2 linked regions of the Homo sapiens genome follow. The protein of the gene in region 2 purifies or fractionates together with the protein of the main gene of each other region. This does not show direct contact. Each region holds a gene or a part of one and is shown on either strand. Other genes may lie near its edges.

Region 1 (7,868 bases), on a different chromosome or scaffold from region 2:
TAATCAAAATGTCCCTCAACTGATGAATAGATATATAAAATGTGGTATTATCCATAAAATGGAATACTACTCAGCCGTAAGGAATAAAGTAGTGACACATGCGCAGCAGGGATAACCCTTGGAAACATTACGTTAAGTGAAACCAGACACAAATGGCCACGTACTGTATAATTCCATTGCTATGAAATATTAATAGAGAAATCCAGAGACAGAAAGTAGATTAGCAGTTGCCAGGGGCTGGGCGAGGGGGGAAAATGGGAAGTGACTAACAGATGCTCAGTTTCCTTTTAGGATAATGAAAAGTTCTGGAACCAGACAGTGGTGATGGTTGTACAACACTATAAAGGTACTGAAACCCACCGAATTGTGCACTTTAAAATGGTAAACACTGTCATATGTATTTCCCAGGTATTTTTTTAATGAAATGAAGTGCTGAAACATGCTACAACATGGATGACCCTTAAATACATAAGTAAAGGAAATCAGTCACAAAAGTCCACGTATTTTAGGATTCCATTTATATGAAATGTCCAGAATAGGGAAATTTAGAGGCGGAACATACAGGGCATACAGAGCCAAGATAAGATAATTTTTTTTTTTTTTTTTTTTTTGAGACTGAGTCTCGCCCTGTTGCCCAAGCTGGAGTGCAGTGGCGTGATCTCGGCTCACCGCAACCTCCACCTCCCGGGTTCCAGGGTTCTCCTGCCTCAGCCACCCCAGTAGCTGGGATTACAGGCGCCCGCCACCACCCCCGGCTAATTTTTGTATTTTTAGTAGAGACGGGGTTTCACCATGCTGGCCAGGCTGGTCTCGAACTCCTGACCTCGTGATCCGCCCATCTCGGCCTCCCAAAGTGCTGGGATTACAGGCATGAGCCACCGCACCCGGCCTATTCTTTTTTCTTTTAAAATTTTTATTTTAAAAATTTATTTTTTTAAATTTATCCAGCGTCTCACGACGCTGTCTCGAAAAAAAAAAAAGTATCGGCCTGGCGGGCGGTGGCTCACGCCTGTAATGCCAGCACTTTGGGAGGCCAAGGCGGTCAAATTATCTGAGGTCAGGAGTTCGAGACCAGCCTGACCAACATGGAGAAACCCTGTCTCTACTAAAAATACAAAAAATAAAAATAATAAAAAAAAATTAGCCGGGCATGATGGTGCATGCCTGTAATCCCAGCTATTCAGGAGGCTGAGGCAGGAGAATCGCTTGAACCAAGGAGGCAGAGGTTGCAGTGAGCCGAGATCACGCCATTGCACTCTAGCCTGGGCAATAAGAGCGAAACACCGTCTCAATAAATAAATAAATATCAGAAATTGGCCCAGCATGGTGGCTCACGCCTGTAATCCCAGAAGAGGTGGGCAGATCGCTTGAGCCCAGAGCTCGAGACCAGCCTGGCCAACATGGCGAAAACCCGTCTCCACTAAAAATACAAAACTGAGTCGGGCGTGGTGGCCCGTGCCTCTAATCCCAGCTACTCCGGAGGCCGAGGTGGGAGGATCGCTTGAGCCTGGGAAACGGAGGTTGCAGTGAGCCGAGCTCGTGACACTGCACTCCAGCCTGTGTGACAGAGTGAGACCCTGTCTCAAAAACCACCAGAACTATTAGTAGTTTACATTATTTGGTTAGTCTGGAAACTAATTACGTTGAGAAACTGACTGAAGCTTGATTATTTCTATTATACACAGACTTCAAACATTCCAGAACTTACTGTTAAAGTCAGATTTACCCTCCTTGTGAGACAGACGCCCAGAGCTTGGACTTATTCGTTTGCTTTATAGAAACTCCCTAACTTATTTCACTTCTCATACTAGACTTTAAGCTCCAAAGCCAGAGACCATGACTTCCATTCCTTCCGGATCCCCCAGCGGAATGTAAAAACTCCAGAAAGCATTTCCTAAATGCCTGCCGAAAGACGGCTACTGAGCATGCCCGGCTTGGCCAAGTCAATTTCAACAACATTCTGAAACAAAAACTATAGTTCCCGCGTTACAAGGTGGAAAAAAGGGAATAAACGGGAGCAAAGCCTAAGGATTCAATCTATATGAGGGGGTTAAGGAAAGGTAAAGTTCAAGGGCGGCGCAGACGTGAAGGACAGCACTATCACAGCTTAAACTTGGTACTCGGTAAACTGGTGTCGAACCAGAACGACCAAAGAAAGGCTTAAAAAAAATACTAGATTAACGAGTGAGGGAAGGCCAACGGGGGTGCAGGGTATCGATGACGTAGGCTGACCACAGTTTTTTCTAAAGCTGCCCTCTACAAAAATAATACTAAGATGATCAGGCCTTCGGTGTCAACACCAACAAGATACACTGTGATGAAGCTCACTTCCAAAAAGTTCCTTTTTACAAACGAAAGAGCCGTGCTGTGGCCAAGATACCCCAACCATCAACGCTTGCTAAGCTCTCAGCTCCTGCCTTCATCTCCACCGCCATCTTCTGGATGGGAACCCAAACCTTCCTAAAGTGCTTTGGCCAGCATCACCTCCGCGCACAGCCCGGGAAGCCTGCGTTTCCCAGGTCGCGCAGACGGCGCAAAGGGGGAAACTCCACCTCGCTCGGCTCCGCGCCTCCCAAATGCACGCAAAGGGCTGCCGTCTTCCTTTCCCCTACCCCGCCCGGGCTTTCCAAGGTCCGGCGCGAGGAGCCCGCGAGGCGCGGTGCGCGGGCCTCACCTGCACACGCCGCGAATGCAGGGCTCCAGCCAGATGCGGTAAGCGGTCTCGATGTGCTCCTGCGACACCTCCTCGGGCCGCACCGTCTCCGCCCAGCGCCAGGCCGCCTTCTCCAGCTGCAGCCGCGGGGCCATGGCCTTGGCCCCAGGAACGCCTCCCGAGCCAGACCGCCGCAGCCGCCGCCGCGGTCTGCACCGCCGCCCCAATGGGCTTCGCCACCTGCCAGCAAGGAGGACCTGGCGCTCCTTCAGGCAGCTGGCCAGTCAATCACCTGTGCGCGCCACTGCCGCCGCGCCCGCCCGCGCCCGACCCGCACGACCGGCCGCAAAGCGCCGCCGTCGACACCCGACACACCCCGCGCCCGCGGACGTTAAAGGTGGACTCCCCGCCGCGCTGAGCGCATGCGCGTTCCCAGCAGCCTCTGCGCCTCCCGCGCCCCTAACCCGACGGGCTGAGGTAGAGGAAGCGTACGTCCGAGGCGGTCTTGCCACGTCCTCACTGGCACTTCTGGAAAAGCAGCGTCTCAGCCCCCGTTCAGGGCGGCGCACTACGTACCACTACTCTAACAAACCAGTGCCTCGAAAGCTATTTCTTGCCTCCGGTACTTCCCTTTTAACCATGAAGTTTTCACGCTAGAGGCTACTCAACGCACACACAGGCCCGCCCAGACTGTGGAGCGGGACCTGTTTAGAGTAGAAACCGAGTCGCCAAAGAAACCAGTGTTGGCTCTTTAGAGGGAGATTTAACTTGAGCCTAGACCGGTTCCGAACCCCTTTCCCGAGCCCTCCTGACGTCATGGGACCTTCCGGCCTTTTCCCGTGCTAGGGTGGGACTACGTGTCCCGGCATGCCCTGCGTCCTGCCACTGACTGTGAGGCATGCTGGGATTTGTAGTCTTCGAGGTGGGAGTGCTCAGTGCGCCGCAGACTGTGCGGGCGGGGGTCCGAGGTGCCAGGGTGGAGTTTCTCTGGTGCGCAAGGTCATGTTTGCTGTTGGCTCCCTTCTCAAGACTGTTACCTCTATGCCAGGATTTTCTAGTTCCTCTCTAGCTCCTGGTTTAAAACATTTCCTTTCTGCGACTCCTGCCCCAGGACATAAAGAGTAGCTTTATGAGAATTGTTTTGCAAACTGTAAAGAACTCTACTAAAGTGAGGATATTTAAGAATTTTGAATTTGAATTAGAGCTCTGCCAGAATCTAAGCGCTAACTTCTGACTCAGCTGCTTGCCTGCTGGAAAACCTTAGGCTGAATTCTTTAGATAAACATTCACTGGGCCGAGCACCGTGGCTCAAGGATCCAATCCCAGCACTTTGGGAGGCCGAGGTGGGCGGATCACCTGAGGTCAGGAGTTCGAGGCCAGCCTGACCAAAATGGAGAAACCCCGTCTCTACTAAAAATACAAAATTAGCAAGGCGCGGTCGCGCATGCCTGTAATCCCAGCTAGTCGGGAGGCAGAGGCAGGAGAATCGCTTGAACCCGGGAGGCGGAGGTTGTGGTTAGCCGAGATAACGCCATTGCACTCCAGCCTGGGCAACAAGAGTAAAACTCCGTCTCAAAAAAAACAAAAAAATTCGCTGAAGGCAGAAGAAAGTAAGATGTGGTCCCTGCCCTTGGAAGTGGGTTAGGGAGTGAGCGGTAGAAATACAAAGATCCCCATCCCAGTCTTGGGAGGCTTCGGGGTACTTGAGAAAAGGCTTCCCAGAAGTAATTCCGAAGCCCGCTTTTAACGGGTGAGTTGGACTTATCCAGGATAGAAGAAAGACACCATTCCAGAAAAAAAGAAACCACAAGGAGCAAAGGCACAGAAGAGAAAAGCTTGGCGTGAGAGGGCCACAATTTCTGAGACAGGGACAGGTGAGAGTTATGGCTTGAAAGGAAGACCTTGCCGCCGGGCGCGGTGGCTCACGCCTGTAATCCCAGCACTTTGGGAGGCCAAGGCGGGCGGATCACGAGATCAGGAGATCGAGACCATCCTGGCTAACACGGTGAAACCCCCTCTCTACTAAAAATACAAAAAAAATAGCCGGGCGTAGTGGCGGGCGCCTGTAGTCCCAGCTACTCTGGAGGCTGAGGCAGGAGAAGGGCGGGAACCCAGGAGGCGGAGCTTACAGTGAGCGGAGATCGCGCCACTGCCCTCCGGCCTGGGCGACTGAGCGAGACTCTGTCTCCAAAAAAAAAACAAAAACAAAACAAAACAACAATAACAACAACAATAAAACAACAATAACAACAAAAAAAAAAACAAAAAAAGGAAGACCTTTATTCAAAGTACCCACTGAAGATATACAGCTGTTGAGTGCTATAATGGAGATTTGCATTTTGTATAGTGAGGCAGAGAAGACTTTTTTTTTTCCTGAGACGGAGTTTTGCTCTTGTTGCCCAGGCTGGAGTGCAATGGTGTGGTCTGGGCTCACTGCAACCTCCGCCTCCTGGGTTCAAGCGATTCTCCTGCCTCAACCTCCCAAGTAGCTAGGATTACAGGCTTTTGCCACCACGCCCGCCTAATTTTTTTGTATTTTTTAGTAGAGACGGGGTTTCACTATGTTGGTCAGGCTGGTCTCGAACTCCGGACTTCAGGTGATCCGCCCACCTCGGCCTCTCAAAGTGCTGGGATTACAGGTGTGAGCTACCGCGCCTGGCCTCCTCCCCTTTTTAGACCATATAGGGTAACTTCCTGACTTTGCCATGGCATTTGTAACCTGTCATGCACTGGTGGGCATGTCTTTTAGCATGCTAATGTATAATAATTAGCGTATAATAATTAGCATATAATAAGCAGTGAGGACGACCAGAGGTCAGTCTCATGGCCATCTTGGTTTTGGTGGGTTTTAACCAGCTTCTTTACTGCATTCTGTTTTCTCAGCAATGTCTTTATGACCTGTATCTTGTGTAGACCTCCTATCTCATCCTGTGTCTAAGAATGCCTTAGGCCAGGCATGGTGGCTCATGCCTGTAATCCCAGCACTTTAGGAGGCCAAGGTGGGCGGATCACGAGGTCAGGAGTTCGAGATGAGCCTGGCCAACATAGTGAAACCCTGGGTCTACTAAAAATACAAAAATTAGCCAGGCATGGTGGCGGGCACCTGTAATCCCAGCTACTCAGGAGGCTGAGGCAGGACAATTGCTTGAACAGGAGGCGGAGGTTACAGTGAGCCAAGATCGTGGCATTGCACTCCATCCCAGGCGACGGTGGGAAACTCAGGCAAAAAAAATGTCTTCACCTCCTGGGAATGCAGCCCAGTAGGTCTCAGCCTTATTTTACCCAGCCCCCATTCAAGATAGAGTCACTCTGGTTCAAACGCCTTGGACAGAATGAGGACTTGCTACAGCTTGATGATGTTGACCTGACCGGTATATCTTCACCTTTCTGATATTTGACCTTCAAGTCTGGTCACACCCCTTTCCTCAGTATCCACAGCTCCCTGTGTCATCCCTTGCTTCACTTAGCACATGATGAAATTGTGACTATCATTCACCATGAAGACACTACTATATGGCAGTTTTCTAAATTGGATAATTAAATAGAATTTCTACCAAATGAGATAGCAACACCAGAAGAAGGAACAGATTTAGAAAGAAGATGATTTCGGCCAGGCACGGTAGCTCACGCCTGTAATCCAGCACTTTGGGAGGCCGAGGTGGACAGATCATCTGAGGTCAGGAGTTCGAGACCAGCTTGGGCAACATGGTGAAACCCTGTCTCTACAAAAATACAAAAATTTGCCAGGTGTGGTGGTAGGCACCTGTAGTCCCAGCTACTCAGAAGGCTGAAGTGGAGGGATTGCTTGAGCCCAGGAGGTCGAGGTTGCAGTGAGCAGAGATCTCACCACTGCACTCCAGTCTGGGCGACAGAGGGAGACCCTGTCTCAAAAACAAACAAACAAAACCCAAATGTGCTAATTTGCTGTAATTTCTCTGAAGTTTAACAAACCCTCTCTTGACTCCCACATCCCCCTCCAGCTACTGTCCCATTTCTCTTTTTCCCTTTATAGCAAAACTCCTGGAAAGCATTTTCTGTACTCTTCTCCAGTTCTCCTCCTATTCCTCCTTAAACCTCCCAAATCAGGTTCTTGCCTCTATCACCTCCAAAACTGCTCGTATGAAGAATGCCAATGGCCTTCACCTTGTTAAATGCAGTGGTAAACTCATACTCTATTTATTTTACTAGACCTGTTAGCAGCAATTGACCCAGTTATTCACTCTTTCCTCTTAGAAACACTTTCTTCTCTTAAATCACAGGGTGCCACACTCTCCTGGTTTTCTCTTTACTGCTGGCCATCCCTTCCGGTGTCCTTTGCAGCTTCTTTCTCCTCTAACCTGGAAACTTGAGTGGCCTAGGGTTCAGTCCTTTGGACCTCTCCTTTAACTTTGTTTACTCCCTGGGGGATCTTGTTAGAAATGCTTGTTCCCCAGTGCCGTAAAGAAGTAGCACTTACGGCCGGGCGCGGTGGCTCACACCTGTAATCCCAGCACTTTGGGAGGCCGAGGCAGGCAGATCATGAGGTCAAGAGATCAAGACCATCCTGGCCAACATGGTGAAACCCCGTCTCTACAAAAAATACAAAAAATTAGCTGGGCATGGTGGCACACGCCTGTAGTCCTAGCTACTCAGGAGGCTGAGGCAGGAGAATCGCTTGAACCTGGGAGGCAGCGGTTGCAGGGAGCCAAGATTGTGCCACTGCACTCCAGCCTGGCGACAGAGCGAGACTTCATCTAAAAAAAAAACAACAAAAAACAAATAGCACTTGAACATAAATTTAACATCCTCAGCAAGGCCATTTTTACTTTCTGCAGAAAGGGTACACTCGCCAGCAGTTTTGCCAGTAGAGTACACTGAACAAACAGGACAGGGTCATTTATAACCTGAAGCGTCCACCCTACTGCTGTGTCTGACTTCCATTGGCTGGAACAGGACCTCACATTCTATATTTGTCCTGATTGGCTAGCAACTTAGAACTTTTTAAAAGAGGCAAAGGCTGGCTGGGTGCAGTGGCTCACACCTGTAATCCCAGCACTTTGGGAGGCTGAGGGGGGCGGATCACCTGAGGTCAGGAGTTCGAGACCAGCCTGACCAACATGGAGAAACCCTGCCTCTACTAAAAATGCAAAAAAAAATTAGCCGGGCGTGGTGGCGCATGTCTGTAATCCCAGCTATCGGGAGGCTGAGGCAGGAGAATCGCTTGAACCTGGGAGGT
Region 2 (7,388 bases):
TGGCTCACGCCTGTAATCCCAGCACTTTGGGAGGCCGAGGCGGGTGGATCACAAGGTCAAGAGATTGAGACCATCCTGGACAACATGGTGAAACCCTGTCTCTACTAAAAATACAAAAATTAGCCTGGCGTGGTGGTGCACGCCTGTAGTCCCAGCTACTCAGGAGGCTGAGGCAGGAGAATCACTTGAACCTGGGAGGCGGAGGTTGCAATGAGCCAAGATGGTCCCATTGCACTCCAGCCTGGCGACCGAGCGAGACTCCGTCTCAAAAAAAAAAAAAAAACAGAAAAAGAAAAATGGAAAGGATAAACTGTTCTTACCTATCAGGCTAGCAAAGGTCAAAAACTTTGAACAGACTTCTATTAAAAGCTTGGAAAACATTTCTCATATGCTGGTTCCATGATGCATGAAAGGAAACTTGACAACATCCTTCAAAATTACAAATGCACATATCCTTTAACCCAGCAATTCACTTTTAGGAATTAATCCTACAGGTACAGACACACACTTGAAATATGAATATTAATCACAGAATTGTACATTACAGCAAAAGATATGAATGGGGAGCCTCTATTTACAGTTTTAAAAAAAAAAGTCCAAGATATGAAACAGCAGCTACAGTGTGCTAGCATTTCTATAAAGGGTGACTATATTCATATTTGCTTGTATATGCTAAGCTCTCTCTGGAGGAACATGCAAGCAACTGTATCATCAGTGGCCTCAGGAAGTGGGGGCAGGGTGGCTGAAGCAGGGGTTAGGGAAACACGGTGTCGATATTTTGTTGTAAATATTTTTATTCCTTTCCAATATTAAACCATGTGCTATATTACCTATTCAAAAAATAACTGTTTTTAAAGGCAAAAAGAAAAAAAAAAAGGGTGGCCCAATCATACAATAAATACATATACATGTGACCAAATCTGGGATTATGGTTTATAGATTGAAAAGCAGAAAGGGTCTATTTCTCCTGTACATGTGTTTTATTCTATCAATGCTTGGTTTGGTTTTATTCATCACTACAGTTTTATTTTAAAATTTTACAGAATTCATTCTAAGTTTTATTCCTCATTACGCTTTTATTTTTAAATTGTACAGAACTTATTCTAATATTTAAACAGAAATGTTTGCTTTTTCTACATAAATAGGTTAATATCATGTTTATCTTTATTATGTCATTTTGAGAAAAATAGAACGCTCAATTGAGTGCTAAAGATTTAAGCTCAGAGATATGCACTTTATGTTCCAAATGTATAAAATGCAAACTATCATGCTGATAATACCTACTAAATACTCTGCATTTCTAGAAAACTGGATAAAATTAAGGCATATAAACCTCCAAGTGGGATTTACATCCTTAGTGCAAATCAAACACAACCAGGGAAAACAAAGCTAATAAATCTAGAAACTTGTATCTTCTATAAGGCTAAAAACACAACTTGCATTACAGAAGTAGAATCTTAACTGTAATGAACTCCAATATCACTAAATGACATTTCTGCCAGTTACTTTTTTTAAAAAAAAAAGTGAAACAAAGTAATCTCTGTTTTCCATGAGCTTATAAAACGACTTCATGCTTTATCAAAGAACATCAATTACGTCATCTGAATCTACTCTCTTTTTTTGAAATAGGAATTTAAGTCTAGGTAGTTCCTCCACAATTTCCTTTATGTCCAAGTAAAATAATCCTCGATATAGGTGGAGAGAAAGGCATAACTGAATTAACTCAAAAAAGCAGAAGCAGATTAATTAGTATTCTGATAAAAAGAATATAATCATTTGGTAAAATCTGCGTTGAATTGTAAAGGTTCATTTTAATTACCCCAACTAGGTAACTGTGCAGTTGGAGCATAACAACTCCTTTACGTTCGACTCTTCCAAGACTTTGTAAGTGGCACTTATTTTAATGATATAGAATTTTGATGATATCGCCATTCTTGTAACGTGACAAATTATCTAAATCACAACATCTGCGGTCAGGCTGTTTCTCAAGATTTCTGTTCTCCTGCCAACTAAAGAGGCCCCGACTACTCCTTGGCGCGCACACTGAGGCCGCGCTGCAGGTCAGCACCGAAAGAGCCCCGCACGGATCCCGCCCCACAGGTGCGATTTACACAACCCACATCACCACCACCCCTCCCAACTTCACCACCTCTAGGGTCACCACCCTGTGGGGTTTTGTCTTTACGACTAAGCCGATTCCCTCTGCCTCGCTGGGGAATCAAACTTCCCAGTGACAACGACAGCGGCCAGCACGGGACGTCCACCAGCCCGGCAGGGCTTGACGCTGTCTCAGACCCGGGGAAGGTCCGGAGTCCGGGCACGGTGGCGCGGGGTGCGCAGCCCTGCCCACCTGCCCTACCTGGTGCGAGCCCCGGCCCCGGGGACTGGGGAGCCAACACGGCCGAGCGGGCGTGGGCAGCAGGGCGAGCGCCGGGAGAGGAGAGCGACGAGGGGGGGTCAACGGAAAGAGCGGAGTAGGGGTGCCAATCGAGGAACTTTGGATTTAGGAGGAGGGGGCCAGAACCGCCCCACTGAGGTTTCTTCCAGAAGTTCGGAGGCTTGGGAGAAAGGGGTGGGGAAGAGACCCGTAGAGGCTCGGGTGCGGCGGCGGGGAGGATCCCCGGGGTCTCTGGGCTGACGGAGTCTCCGGCCTCAGGGAGGAGTCGCCAGGGCCGCCGAAGCCGAACTGGCAGAGGAAAAGCAGAGGAAGGCGGCGCGCGAACTCGCCAGCAAAGGAGGGCTGCGCTGCTCCCGGAGCGGAGCGCCTCGCAGCCCGGACCGCGGGACTCACCGCGCTGGCGGCGGCGGCGCCAGACGACGCGGGGCCGGGCACGTCCTGCCTCCTCAGGCGGGACTTGAGGCTCTTCATGGCTAACTCTTGCCTGGCCCCCGCGCGAACCTTAAAGGCTGCGGAGTGCCAGCGCGCAAGGAGTAGACGGCAGCGGCTGCAGCAGAGGCGGCGCGGGCTGTACCAGCCCCACCTGCCTGCCACCTGCGGGCCCCGGGCAGCAGACGTCGACAGGCCTGAGGCGGGGCTCCCCTCCCGTAGCCAATTGACCCGCTGCCCTGGCGGGGGCGTGGCAAACCGCGACCAATCGGAATGCGGGAATGGGGCGGGACTTCCCTTTTAAACTGAGTAACACCCTTCCTCTCCCAGCTGGAGGAAAAGTTTGGGAACTTTAGCCCGGGAAGGGGCGGAGGAGGTGGGCGGCCAGAGGCGTGGAGATGCGCGCAGGCCGGGCTCCAGGCCACCGGCGCCCGCCCACCCGGAGCTTAAGATCTAGAGAGAGCACGGGGTCCCGCCTTTGCCACCTCTCATCTTCCCGGACTCCCCTCCTCTTTCCACCCACGCGCTCTTTACCAAGTAAAGTTCCTTCCCTTCCGTCTGGTCTTAGAAATGACTCTTGGTTACCTGCACACAGAACAGCTTTCAGGAGCAACTTCTTTTCAGTCTCCTGTTTTACTACCAAATCCTGGTGCCTGGAAACCACCACACGCATCAAAAATTCCAGAAATAAACAGTCTCTAAGAAATAAGGTGCTGATTGTGCAGAAAAACGTACAGTTAAGAAAGACCTTGAAAGACGTTATAGTAAGTTACAGTACAAGTTACGTGCTCGTTTATTTGTTGAGTGAAGAATCCGCCGTATTGGAAGCAAAGGGACGGAATGGGGGCGGGGAGGGAGGAGAAGAGGTGCCATCAATTAAAAATGACTCCCACAGCCAGTGATTTAAGTTGTCAAAAAAAGTTACGCCCTTTTTTCTTCAAAAAGGTTTTTTGTTTTCTGTAGAAACACATTACATGTAAACGTATACGATGAAGTTAAATCATCTTACCTAGAAATCTGGGTTAGTAAAAATTATTTAAGAGGATGAAGAAACAGGAAGGTGCTCAGCACCCAATAATTTGCTGTTCGGGTGACATCTTCAAAAGTCTTCTTTGGAGTCATTTTTCCCCCCAGCAAAACGTTTATCGTAGCATGCATCCATTTGAAAAGACAAACGGTCCACATTTTCTGACTAACAAAGGACTCTTTTTTGTCTGAAAGGTCAGTTGCTCTCTTTAGAGTTTCTTTATAGTAACGCAAGGTTTTCTTCAAATACTGTAAGAAAGTTTTCAGAATTTCTTGGAGAGGCAGCATTCAAAGACTGTGTTAACCCTATACAACAAGTAAATAACAACTAACTACCCAAAAATATTATTAAATTTCATCTTGATTAGATCTTTGGAAGAAAATTTTCTTTGATTCCTCCCCCTTCCTCTAGATCTCCAGTCATTTAGTTCTTGTTGGCTCTTTAAAGTGTCTGTGTATGGTCAGTTACTCTGTTCTCACTGCCACTGCAGAGCCAAAATTACCTCATACCCGGACTATTATTACAGAAGCTTCCCAGCCAGTCTCCCAACCTTCAGTCTCTTAATTGTCCCATCACCAATAAATTATCAGCCATCATCAATAAGTCTTACAAAAATACTCCTCTTGCTCAAAAGCCTTCAGCAGCTAACGAATAAAATCTAATTCTTTGCATTTAAAGCTGTATAACGTGGACGCGACCCTGTTCTCTAGCCAACACCCCAAGCGAATTACTCTTCAGCCCATTCTCCAAACATGGGTCATGGCTTTCAACTTCCACATCTTTATGCATACTGATCCCTCCCCCAATAATCTTCTGTCTGTCTACATTCATCTCAGAAAATCCTACTCCCCCAAGAGTGATTGGTAGGGGATGTCGGGGGCTTCTGGAATACTGTACTATTCTCTGTGGGTGCTGGTTACATATCTAGTGTTTTCAGATTGTGAAAATTCAATGAGCCTGTACTGTATGCAATATATTCTCTTTTATGTGTGTGTTATGCTTTAACAAAAAGTTTGTTTTTAAGTGTATGTCCCTTCCAAGTGCCCTCCTCTCTATAGAACCTTCCCTGATCAAGTAACTGGAAGTGATCTCTCCATCCTCCAAATAGTTACAGCAATTATACCTCTCATATGATACTAACACATATGAGCTGAGCAAACCTTATTTCATTACTGGACTTCAATTTACTTAAAATTGGGGAATAACTGACATATATTTGAATTCCCTAGAATGCTTAGCATGTTATAGGTGTTTAATAAATATTTCTGAATGAATTGATGCATTCTTATTGACTACTATAGCAAATTATGGTTGTTTGTTCTATGTATTTATGTGACACAGGATTGGGATTCCCCCTATTGTGAACACAGATGGAATGATCTGAGGCTATGGTCCTGCTCAAATATTTGTGTCTCAATCAACTCCTTTCTCTGGGCTTAAGATAAGCACCCATTTACCATCTAGTCCTCTGACTGAATCTTAAATGTTAATTGCTTACAAGAGCACTGTCTCAGTAATTGGCTCTTGAGTTATTAATTGCAGTGTTATGTTGTACTGGTTGTCTCCTGTAACATCCAAGTTATCATAGTCCTGGTGACTGGCCTCCTTTTCTGTTGTTACTGGATAAAGCAAAGGAAACAGACAGAACCACAAGTATAGCTTGCATCAGGTTCCAAAAATGTTGGGCAAGTTATTTTTATGAACTGTCTGGATGATGTCCCCATGGTGTCTGTGTCCAGTGGCCTTTATGGATTTTTCCAGCCTAGAAACTTGATAGCTGATGTCTGCTTATTCCCATTTGAGAGCAGCTAAGTAAATAGCACTGGTCTGAATATTCAGTAAAGCTTTTTTACATTGATCTGGAAGCTGCCTATATGAAGTAAAGTCACTATTATTAGCATTCAACCAGACAGGTTGGGTTTTATTTTGTTAACTCTTATCACTATTATTTATTTTTATCTTCCCTTCAGAGCAAAGGGCACTTATCAAACCTAGATGACCTTTTGTTTGTTATCACACTGAGCCTATATAAAATATTTTTTTGTTTTACTTCTTTTTTTTTTCCAATATTTATTTATTTACAATATATACCAGGAAGGGTAATGCATTTTTTAAAATTACTTTACTAGATTATATATACACATGGTAATCTCAAATAATACAAATGGAGCAAGTTGATCTGCTTACCACCCCTATTTTGATCCCTGCTGTCAAGGAACTTGTGTTCTGGATTAGATAACAAATGTGTAAGCTGTATGCTAACACATACAGTTTAACTGGACAATCGCTTACTGAATCGTGTAGTAAGATTGCAGATGGTATTTAGGGAAGGAAAAGATCAACAGATAAGTTTGCCTGAAGGGAGGCTATCCAAGGTTGAGTATCCATTCAATGAATACCAACAGGTGAGAAGTAATACCAGATGGGCAGAGGATACCCAGGGGACCTGCCAGAACAGGGAAGAGAACACAGTCGACAGATGCTCACTGATAACTCAGATGATGATAACGGCAAAAACGATGACAAATATGATTTCTCAGAAGAAGAATAAAGAATCCACACAGAGGGCCGGGCACAGTGGCTCACACCTGTAATCCCAGCACTTTGGAAGGCCGAGGCGGGTGGATCACGGGGTCAGGAGATCGAGACAATCCTGGCTAATATGGTGAAACCCCGTCTCCACTAAAAATACAAAAAATTAGCCAGGCGTGGTGGCAGGCACCTGTAGTCCCAGCTACTCTGGAGGCTGAGGCAGGAGAATGGCGTGAACCTGGGAGGTGGAGCTTGCAGTGAGCCGAGATGGCGCCACTGCACTCCGGCCTGAGCGACAGAGCAAGACTCCATCTCAAAAAAAAAAAAAAAAACAAAAAACAAAAACAAAAACAACAACAATAAAAAAAAGAATCCACACACAGGCCGGGCATGGTGGCTCACAACTGTAATTCCAGGACTTTGGGAGGCCAAAGTGGACAGATCACTTGAGGTCAGGAGTTTGAGACCAGCCTGGTGAACATGGTGAAACCCCATCTCTACTAAAATACAAAAATTAGCTGGGCGTGGTGGTGGAAGCCTGTAATCCCAGCTACTGGGGAGGCTGAGGCAGGAGAATCGCTTGAACCCAGGAGGCAGAGGTTGCAGCGAGCCAGAATAACGCCACTGCACTCCAGCCTGGGTGATAGAGCAAGACTTCATCTCAAAAAAAAAAAAAGAATTGACATACAAAGTCTAAAATTTGCACATAAAATGAGTCCTTTTCAAACATAAAGATCTCCTTCCAGACAAGCTTTAGTTATGAATTCTATATCCAATGACTTCCCTCTTCATTTTCAGAACTTCTTGCTGCTCCGAGTAGCCCTGGGGACCCAGTGAACAAAGCCAGTGAATAATTTCATGAAGGGGCCCATGACATCAGTCATTCTCTCAGATGCCAAAGCAAATGGCTGGCAGAACCACGTGTGGCCACAGAGTCATGAGGAAAGGCACTTCTACCCAGAAATCATAGGCAGCCCAGGAAATGAGAGACCTGAGGCAGTT

The links. The genes of interacting proteins can lie anywhere in the genome.
Region 1: the proteins of UACA (region 2) and USP48 purify together in Homo sapiens (affinity purification with mass spectrometry; 2 studies listed by BioGRID, with this or other methods). This does not show direct contact.

The regions. Positions count from the first base shown.
Region 1 is NC_000001.11:21,780,150-21,788,017, forward strand, and holds the start of USP48 (ubiquitin carboxyl-terminal hydrolase 48), read right to left. Parts: upstream 3,001-7,868; 5' UTR 2,809-3,000; coding exon 2,675-2,808; intron 1-2,674.
Region 2 is NC_000015.10:70,760,539-70,767,926, forward strand, and holds the start of UACA (uveal autoantigen with coiled-coil domains and ankyrin repeats), read right to left. Parts: upstream 3,021-7,388; 5' UTR 2,870-3,020; coding exon 2,792-2,869; intron 1-2,791. UniProt on the Homo sapiens protein: Regulates APAF1 expression and plays an important role in the regulation of stress-induced apoptosis. Promotes apoptosis by regulating three pathways, apoptosome up-regulation, LGALS3/galectin-3 down-regulation and NF-kappa-B inactivation.